Linked DNA regions of Homo sapiens: region 2 is linked to region 1. A link means that fine-mapping ties the variant in region 1 to the expression of a gene that starts in the linked region. Tissue or cell type: monocytes. Region 1 holds a variant in brackets; the other region holds the start of a gene. All regions are shown on one strand. Distances are between the middles of the regions.

Region 1 (4,399 bases):
GCTGTCAGTTTCCAGTTCTATTGGGATCATTGTTTTCCTGTGTCATTCAGCTTTTATTGCACAACACCCAATCGCAAAAATCTCAGTGGCATACAACAAAAGTATTTACTTCTCACTCATGTGTTGCTTATTAACTGGAGTTCGGCTGATTTAGACTAGCCATTGCTAGGCTTGGCTCCAGGCCATACTTAGAGTTTAGATCTTGTCCATATGGCTCACATTTTTCTGGGGATCCAACAGCATACCTGGGGCATGCACATTCCAGACACATTTAAGTCTTTGCTGTTTCATGGCCACTGAGATCCCATGGTTCACAGCAAGTCATATGGCCAAACACAAAGTTAAAACACTAGGAAATATCTTTTTTTTCTACTATGAGACCATGATAAGGCTGTGAATGTATACATTATCTATTACAAGAGAACAGAGAATTGAGAGTATAATCTGCCATATGTTCTAAGCACACATTTTTGTTGCTGAATCTTGGTTGAGCTTCAAATCCCTTTTTTTTGCTGCTGGAGAGTATTTCTCAAGTCTTCCTGTTGATTTGAAGAGCTGCTTGATACCCTCTAGCAAACAGTTACCTTTCAGGTCATATGAAATCATATGAGCACCTGGGAGAGGGTTTTGGGGCACAAAGATGAGGTCCTCAAATGACATCAGGAGGCAGTAGCCTAACTTATACCTGAGTATAACCAAATTCTGATTAATAAATCTCTGTGATACTCTCATCAAATATTTTATTGTGGGAAACTGATCATTGTGCAGGATAGGATATTTTTAGGAATGTAGTTTTAAAATAACGAATATAATCTTTGTTAGGACACGAGAATTTTTTTCATTTTGAATCACTACCTAGTAATATATTTTAACCAAGTTTTCACCATAATATTCACTTTTACAAATATAAAAGCTATAATCAAAGGTATATGTATTAGTCCATTCTCATGCTTCCATGAAGAAAATACCAGACTGGGTAATTTATAAAGGAAAGAGTTATAATTAAATCAAAGTTCCATAGGGCTGGGGAGGCCTCAGAAAACTTAACAATCATAGCAGAAGGGAAAGCAAACATGTCCTTCACATAGTGACAGGAAGGAGAAGAATGAGAGAAGGGCAAAGCAAAATGGGGAAAAGCCCCTCACAAAACCATCAGATCTCATGAAAACTCACTCCCTATCATGAGAACAGCACAGGGGAATGGCCCCCATGATTCAATCACCTCCCATGAGGTCCCTCCCCCAATACATGGATGTTACAATTCAGATTACAATTCAAGATAAGATTTGGTGAGGATACAGCCAAATCATATTATTCTGCCCCAACATGTGGGGATTACAACTGAGATAACAATTCAAGATGAGATTTGGGTGGGGACACAGCCAAACCATATCATTATACCTGATTTTTAGTTGCTATTATTTTCCTATTAGAAACCAAATTTGGGGAGGCATCTCCAAATACTAACATTGGTAAGTAAGATATAATTGAGTAGCAAACAGCGGTGGTTTTTTATTTCTACACAAAGGTAATACTCCTCTTCATTGCTAAGTATGTAACTGATATTTTACAAGTTTAACATTTAAAAGAATACTTCTCCACCTGAGAGTTGACAATATGTATTAGAAACAGTAGAATGCTAGTTAACAATGAAATATGGAAACGAAGGCCTGGAAGGAAGGTTTCTAATATTATGTGGGGAAAACAAACAAACCTGATGATCAATCAGTGTGAATTATTATCAGTGTTCTTCATTATGGTTAGAAAGTTGAGCATTACAGTTAATTCACCTGCACATCTGTGACTGCTAGAGGGAATTGAAAGCACCACTGTCTATCCAAAAAGAAAATAGCCTTTAGAAATACTTTGTAATGCCAGATAATAAGGTGATATGATTACAAGCTAATAGACTCCATTACAGTACACAACACCACTTTGGGTTCAGCCTGATATTCCTCTTCTCACACTCCAGATGCTACTCTACTACCGAATTATCTCTCTCTTTGTATTGTTAGTGTGCAGATTGACTGTATTGTGTGTGTTTAATTTTGTTCTAAAAATTTTTTGTGAATTATGGTTTAAGTTATTACTGGGTATCTGAAAAGTAAGTATAAAATCAATGCTTTGTAAGCTCTGGGAAAAATATTGACTAACTTCTAAGGAGATTCATTGTTGTGGGAAGTCAGGGACCCCGAACGGAGGGACCGGCTGAAGCCATGGCAGAAGAACGTGGATTGTGAAGATTTCATGGACATTTATTAGTTCCCCAAATTAATACTTTTATAATTTGTTACACCTGTCTTTACTGCAATCTTTTAACATAAATTGTGAAGATTTCATGGACACTTATCACTTCCCCAATCAATACCCTTGT[A/G]AGTTCCTATGCCTGTCTTTACTTTAGTCTCTTAATCCCATCATCTTCGTAAGCTGAGGAGGATGTATGTCGCCTCAGGACCCTGTGATGATTGCGTTAACTGCACAAATTGTTTGTAGAGCATGTGTGTTTGAACAATATGAAATCTGGGCACCTTGAAAAAAGAATAGGATAACAGCAATGTTCAGGGAACAAGAGAGATAACCTTAAACTCTGACCACCAGTGAGCCAGGCGGAACAGAGCCATATTTCTCTTCTTTCAAAGGCAAATAGGAGAAATATTGCTGAATTCTTTTTCTCAGCAAGGAACATCCCTGAGAAACAGAATGCGTCCCTTAGGGTAGGCCTCTAAAATGGCCACTTTGGTGGGCAGCCATCATTTATGGTCGAGCTGTAGGGATGAAATAAGCCCCAGGCTCCCATAGTGCTCCCAGGCTTATTAGGACGAGGAAATTCCCACCTAATAAATTTTGGTCAGACCAGTTGTCTGCTCTCAAACCCTGTCTCCTGATAAGATGTTATCAATGACAATGTGTGCCCAAAACTTCATTAGCAATTTTAATTTCACCCCAGTCCTGTGGTCCTGTGATCTCACCCTGCCTCCATTTGCCTTGTGATATTCTATTACCTTGTGAAGCACATGATCTCTGTGACCCACACCCTATTCATATACTCCCTCCCCTTTTGAAAATCACTAATAAAAACTTTCTGGTTTTATGGCTCAGGGGGCATCACGGAAACTGCTGACATGTGAGGTCTCCCCCGGACACCCAGCTTTAAAATTTCTCTCTTTTGTACTCTGTCCGTTTATTTCTCAGGCCAGCTGACATTTAGGGAAAATATTATTTATTTATTTATTTATTTATTTATTTTTAATTATACTTTAAGTTTTAGGGTACATGTGCACATTGTGCAGGTTAGTTACATATGTATACATGTGCCATGCTGGTGCGCTGCACCCACTAACTCATCATCTAGCATTAGGTATATCTCCCAATGCTATCCCTCCCCCCTCCCCCCACCCCACCACAGTCCCCAGAGTGTGATATTCCCCTTCCTGTGTCCATGTGATCTCATTGTTCAATTCCCACCTCTGAGTGAGAATATGCGGTGTTTGGTTTTTTGTTCTTGCGATAGTTTACTGAGAATGATGATTTCCAATTTCATCCATGTCCCTACAAAGGACATGAACTCATCATTTTTTATGGCTGCATAGTATTCCATGGTGTATATGTGCCACATTTTCTTAATCCAGTCTATCATTATTGGACATTTGGGTTGGTTCCAAGTCTTTGCTATTGTGAATAATGCCGCAATAAACATACATGTGCATGTGTCTTTATAGCAGCACGATTTATAGTCATTCGGGTATATACCCAGTAATGGGATGGCTGGGTCAAATGGTATTTCTAGTTCTAGATCCCTGAGGAATCGCCACACTGACTTCCACAATGGTTGAACTAGTTTACAGTCCCACCAACAGTGTAAAAATGTTCCTATTTCTCCACATCCTCTCCAGCACCTGTTGTTAAAAGAACCTACATGAAATATTGGGGGTGCTTTTCAAAATACTTTGTAATGCCAGATAATAAGGTAATATGATTACCAGCTAACAGACTCCATTATAGTACACAGCACTGCTTTGGGTTCAGCCTGATATTCCTCTTCTCACACTCTAGATGCTACTCTACTACTGATTTGTCTCTCTCTTTGTATTGTTAGTGTGCAGATTGACTGTATTTTGTGTGTTTAATTTTGTCCTGAAAAATTTTGTGAATTACGTTTAAGTTATTATTGGGTATCTGAAAAGTACGTATAAAATCAATGCTTTGTGAGCTCTGGAAAAAATATTGACTAACTCATAAGGAGATTCATCATTGACAGAGGTAGTCAGTGGCCTACACTCATGTCACCATCACCACAAAATAGCACTGCTTCTCCAAACTGCATTTTTTTTCTGAAAGAGTAATTCCTTGTGGCAAGTGATATGCTCCATGAAAGCTGTATCAGTTAAGGTTTGAGCTT
Region 2 (4,399 bases), 220 kb after region 1:
CTCCAACTTCTTCTACTTTTTATCCTGTCGTTTTTCTTCCTTCTCTGTCTTCTCCTCCTCCTCTCCTTCACTAAATAACTGAAATAAAATTTAGACCAAATTCTTTTATCTTATTTCTCCAACTATGAAATGATTTTAAAATAAGGTTTGGAGACTATTTTGGAAAATGGAAAGTGAATATTTACATGAAGTCACAAGTCTGGGGTGCATTATTTTCACACTTCTACCTCTAATGTTAAACTTCCTATTATTCAAGCATAGCCCAAATACAAGTGTTTGTCACTTAGAAGGATATATTTATATCACGTTGCCTTCTTTTCCCGTATACTTAGAATAAGGATCTTAATCTTAAACATTACATAAGTAGAAGAGATTTAATTAAAAACTTGAAGAAATGTGTTACTGTTAATTGAATTCTTGCTACATTTACCTTTGCACACCAATGTTAATAAAACTCCAGTTCAAAGTGGATGGGTTTGGGGAATTGAGATAGCTATTTATTTCCCTACCTGAGATGCCAAGATAATCTTCTCAGTAAAATAAAGAACCCAATTAGGAGAGTTCTCATTTGTAGCTATTGATCAAGTTTACACAAAATGCTAGGATTTCTAAATAAAACAAATAAGAGGTTCAAAGGCCTTTAAACGAGGTTGAGGGAGGGAGAAAGGGAAATAGTTCTCTCCGTTTTGAAATCCTTTCACCTGTGGAGCAGATAATGGACGGGCCCCTCTCCCAGCTGGGCTCCGCTCCCGCCCCTAGCCTGGCGCGCGGTCCCTTCCCCCACCCGCTGAGCCTTCCTGTTCGGTATTTCGGTATTACCAAGCTATAAATTGCCTGAGAGCTTAGAGACAATCAGGTCACCACCGCCCTCACAAGAGAAAAGCTTCTTACTTCCGAGCAGAACGGTTCAGCTGGGAAGAGAGGAAGCAGGGAGAGAATCTATGCTTTAGTCGTCACTGCTCTGGCAAGGGGTCGAGAGAGATGGGGGAGGGAGGTGGCAAAAAATAAAAATGAAAAAATAAAAAAGCATCTCCAACAATGTTGCACTTGACCCAAGTGTACAAACTTATTGGTCGCTGCAATGGAAACTCCCAGTGCACTCTCCACGGCCTGGCAGCCGCCGCTGATGGGTGGAGTCGCGCTCCCGGCCCCACCTATGGGACGGAGCTGCTTCTCCCGCATCTCGGCTCCACCGCACCCTTCGCGGGAAGTCCCCAGGCTTCCAGCAAAGCTCAGCTTATCCCGCCCCCGCTTCCAACCCGGAACCCCAGAAGAACAGCATGATGAGCCTCCGGCAGCCAGGTGGGCCACCTCCCCGCGGCTCAGTTTGAGGACACTTGTGCGGAACCCTTTCACATCCCCACCCTACCCAGCTTTCACAACTCCGCCGGGTTAAATGGCCAAAGACAAACTTCTACCTCTCCTGTCCCCGGTCCCAGCTTTTCAAAAACCCACAGCTGGCGAACCCACACACATCGAAACTCCTAGGTCGCTGTTGCAGTCTGGGCATGCTCAGTATCAGGGTAGGTTTTGATTGAGAGTAAAAAAAAAAAAAAAAAAGCTTTGTATTATGCTCTCTTTCTCCTGTGCATACTGCTTGCTGAACAGCTTGTGGGGCATTCCTGAGTCTACCTAGAGGTTTTATCAGACGCCCTTGATTGTGTCTCCTTGGGATCTGTTCCCCTCTTACTTCACCCCCTCCCCCAACCCGCCTCCACCCCGCTTCCCAGGTCCCTGTCCGCTGTGGGGATGGAGAGACACTAACAGAACTGGGATGGGCGATGTTGGCTGAACGGATCCACCTATTATTAGTGCGCGGGGATTGGCTCCTTGGCGCAGCGTACCCGAGGTGGAGCCAATCAGGATGCTGGGGCTCGGAGATGATGGGCGGCCGCCTCCTCACTGGAGGGATTCCTGGAGAAGCTGCAGTGTGGGGATGCTCTAGACCGAGTACTGCCCCCAGTGTCTTTCCACCTCCTCCTGCAGCAGCGGCAGCGGCAGCAGCAGTTAGCAGCGGCAACTTGAGGCTGCACCCCGGGCAAGTCCCCAGGGTGGTGCTCAGCCGAGAGGGGGGCTTGGCGCCCCGAAGGGGTGTGTGTAGGGTGGGGGCGACCACGTGGGACCAGCTGGTGGCCCTGGAAAACCTCCCACACACCCACACCCACACACCCCTTTTGTGTTGCAGGCTGCCCCTCCAAGAGCGGAGGCAGCGAGAGTACGCGTGTGCCTCGCGCCGGTCCACGCGGGGAGAGCACTGGGGACCGAGACCCGGCACCACCTCCCGGTCCGCCCTCCAGGTAAGGAAGCGGGACTGGCGGCGCGGCCACCTCGGCGGTGCCTATCTGCTCGAATCCATCCCAAAGATTTTCTTCTCGATACACTTGGGTTTTAGTGGTGGGAGTCTGAGACCTAGGGAGGGATCCCCGGGTGGCCTATTGTGAGAAATATGAGACTACATGTGCATCTCCTGGAAAAGCACTTTGCACAGCGCCCGTGATTTAGAGCCTGGAGTTGATGTTGGGCATCCCCCATCTTCTTGCTTCCTCTTTCCTTCTCTTGTTCTCTCTCCTCCGTCCCCCACCCCCAATCTCAATCTTTTCTCTCTTTCTCTCCCACACCTCCCCTCTCGCCCTCCTCCCACCCTAAGCACGCACAGCGTTTCTTTCTCCTCCTGGAGAGGATTGCCTTTCTTAGAGGAAAGAGGGGGAGTGAAGAAAGGAGAAAGATTTCTTTCTGTTGGGGAGAGGGATATGGGGGGGGGGGGGAACGTAAACAAGATAGAATACAAGCTCTGCGAAAATCAGAGCACATAAAGCAATTAAACTGAATAAGGGGAGTAGACAACCAGTCCAGCTTGGGCTGTCAGAGAGAGGAAGCGTCAAGTTTGACTTGATTTCCTCCTTGCAAGAGTCTATGTCTCTCACTTGATTCGTTCAAATGGAACAAAAATAAACCGACAATCCAACCCACTTTCAACTGCTTAATTGCTTTTGCTTTTGAGTGCCAACCATCTGACTTTTCCTGTTTCCATCTGTCCTGTGGGGCTAACAATTTGGTATTGCACATCAGTGTTAATATCTGAACTTTGAAAGCTTTCTTGAGTAACAAAAAAAAAAAAACAATTAAAATAGATTATTACTTTCCTGAGGTTTCTTGGTATGGCCTGTTGTTGGGGGATCAAAAAATGTAAAGTTTCAAAACATTTGCAAGGGACAACAATTTTATAGGGAGGCTTGGATTTCTACTTTGAGAAAGCTAATCTTCTAGTTAGCTTTGTGTACATGTTGATATTCACTTTCTCCAGTATTAACCCTTTCGTGAAATAAAGCAACTGTTTAACTTTTGTATGGAAGCTACATTTGTGTAGAATTTTCACTTTATTCTACCTTTGTACTATTTGCATTTTATTGTCTGGATACCAAACTTATGCCTGGCTTTATTTTCTTTTAATAGGACAATATTTAATGGATGTAAACATGATGTTTATACAATTTCAGCACTCCCTTTAGAAGGCACATGGAGGCTCAGTTGGACAAGAATCCTCCTGTACTGGAACTAAGTTTAGAAAGTAATGCTAGAAAGATACCCTAAATTTTAAAAATCCTGAAGGGGAAAACATTTTTGTAACGTCTTGTTAAAAGAAAGAAAAATATATCAAAACACCAACATGCCCCTGGCTGCCTGCATAATAGGTCAAGTAAATGGTACTTGTTGGACAGAGCCTTTACAGCAGCTTCAGCAGTCTCTAATTCCATCATTGGGGATATAAGCTTTCTTTTCTTATTATTCTTCAGGGACAGCTAAGCGATAGTACTGTCAGATGGAAGGAGGTATAGAGAAATGCCTCGTTTGATGTAATAGGAAAGCATTCCAAGTGGGTCTTACCTGAACACAGAGAAATCCACAGATGTTAGTATACAAAACACTTCTTTTTATTTATCAGGGGAAATGCAGAGTCTTACTTTTTTTTGTCTAGAACTCCACTTGATATAAGAAAAGAGAATCTTCTATCTTAACTGTGTCTGACCTTCCACACTAATTTTGTATCTCAGAGAGTATTTTTTCACTACGTACGTTTAATATATAAGTTTACACACCAACTTAGAGAAGAGCTGAATTCATTTGCCATCAGTGTAATGTGTACTATTTTCCAAACCATTTTGCATTTGAGGCAATGATCTCTCCCTAAATAGAATTACCAAGTCACGAAAAACGATTTTCTTTCTAGGGCTTTGACATTTAAATGAAAAAAAAAAAAAAATAGTGTCTCTGTTGAAAGCTAACTCTGGTTTTTAGAGGTGCCACCTTTTGGTTACAAGGACAAAGGGACAATCACTTAATTACCTCACATGTATGTACAACTGAATTAACAAGTTTAGACATGAAAAGATGTACAAAA

Evidence for each region. PIP is the estimated chance that this variant, and not a neighbour inherited with it, causes the effect. A credible set is the group of variants that fine-mapping cannot tell apart.
Region 2: SYT1 starts here. The variant in region 1 is the best candidate, but not a certain one, in a credible set for the expression of SYT1 in monocytes (TOPMed, PIP 0.79).

Annotation. Positions count from the first base shown.
Region 1 is chr12:78,646,051-78,650,449 of GRCh38, forward strand. No RefSeq gene overlaps it. Among named protein-coding and RNA genes, the nearest start is that of SYT1, 220 kb to the right of the region's middle. The variant A/G (reference allele first, on the strand shown) is at 2,375.
Region 2 is chr12:78,862,813-78,867,211 of GRCh38, forward strand. SYT1 (synaptotagmin 1) reads left to right here and starts at 1,962. Exons shown (of 11, transcript NM_005639.3): 1 at 1,962-2,297. RefSeq lists a silencer at 746-805.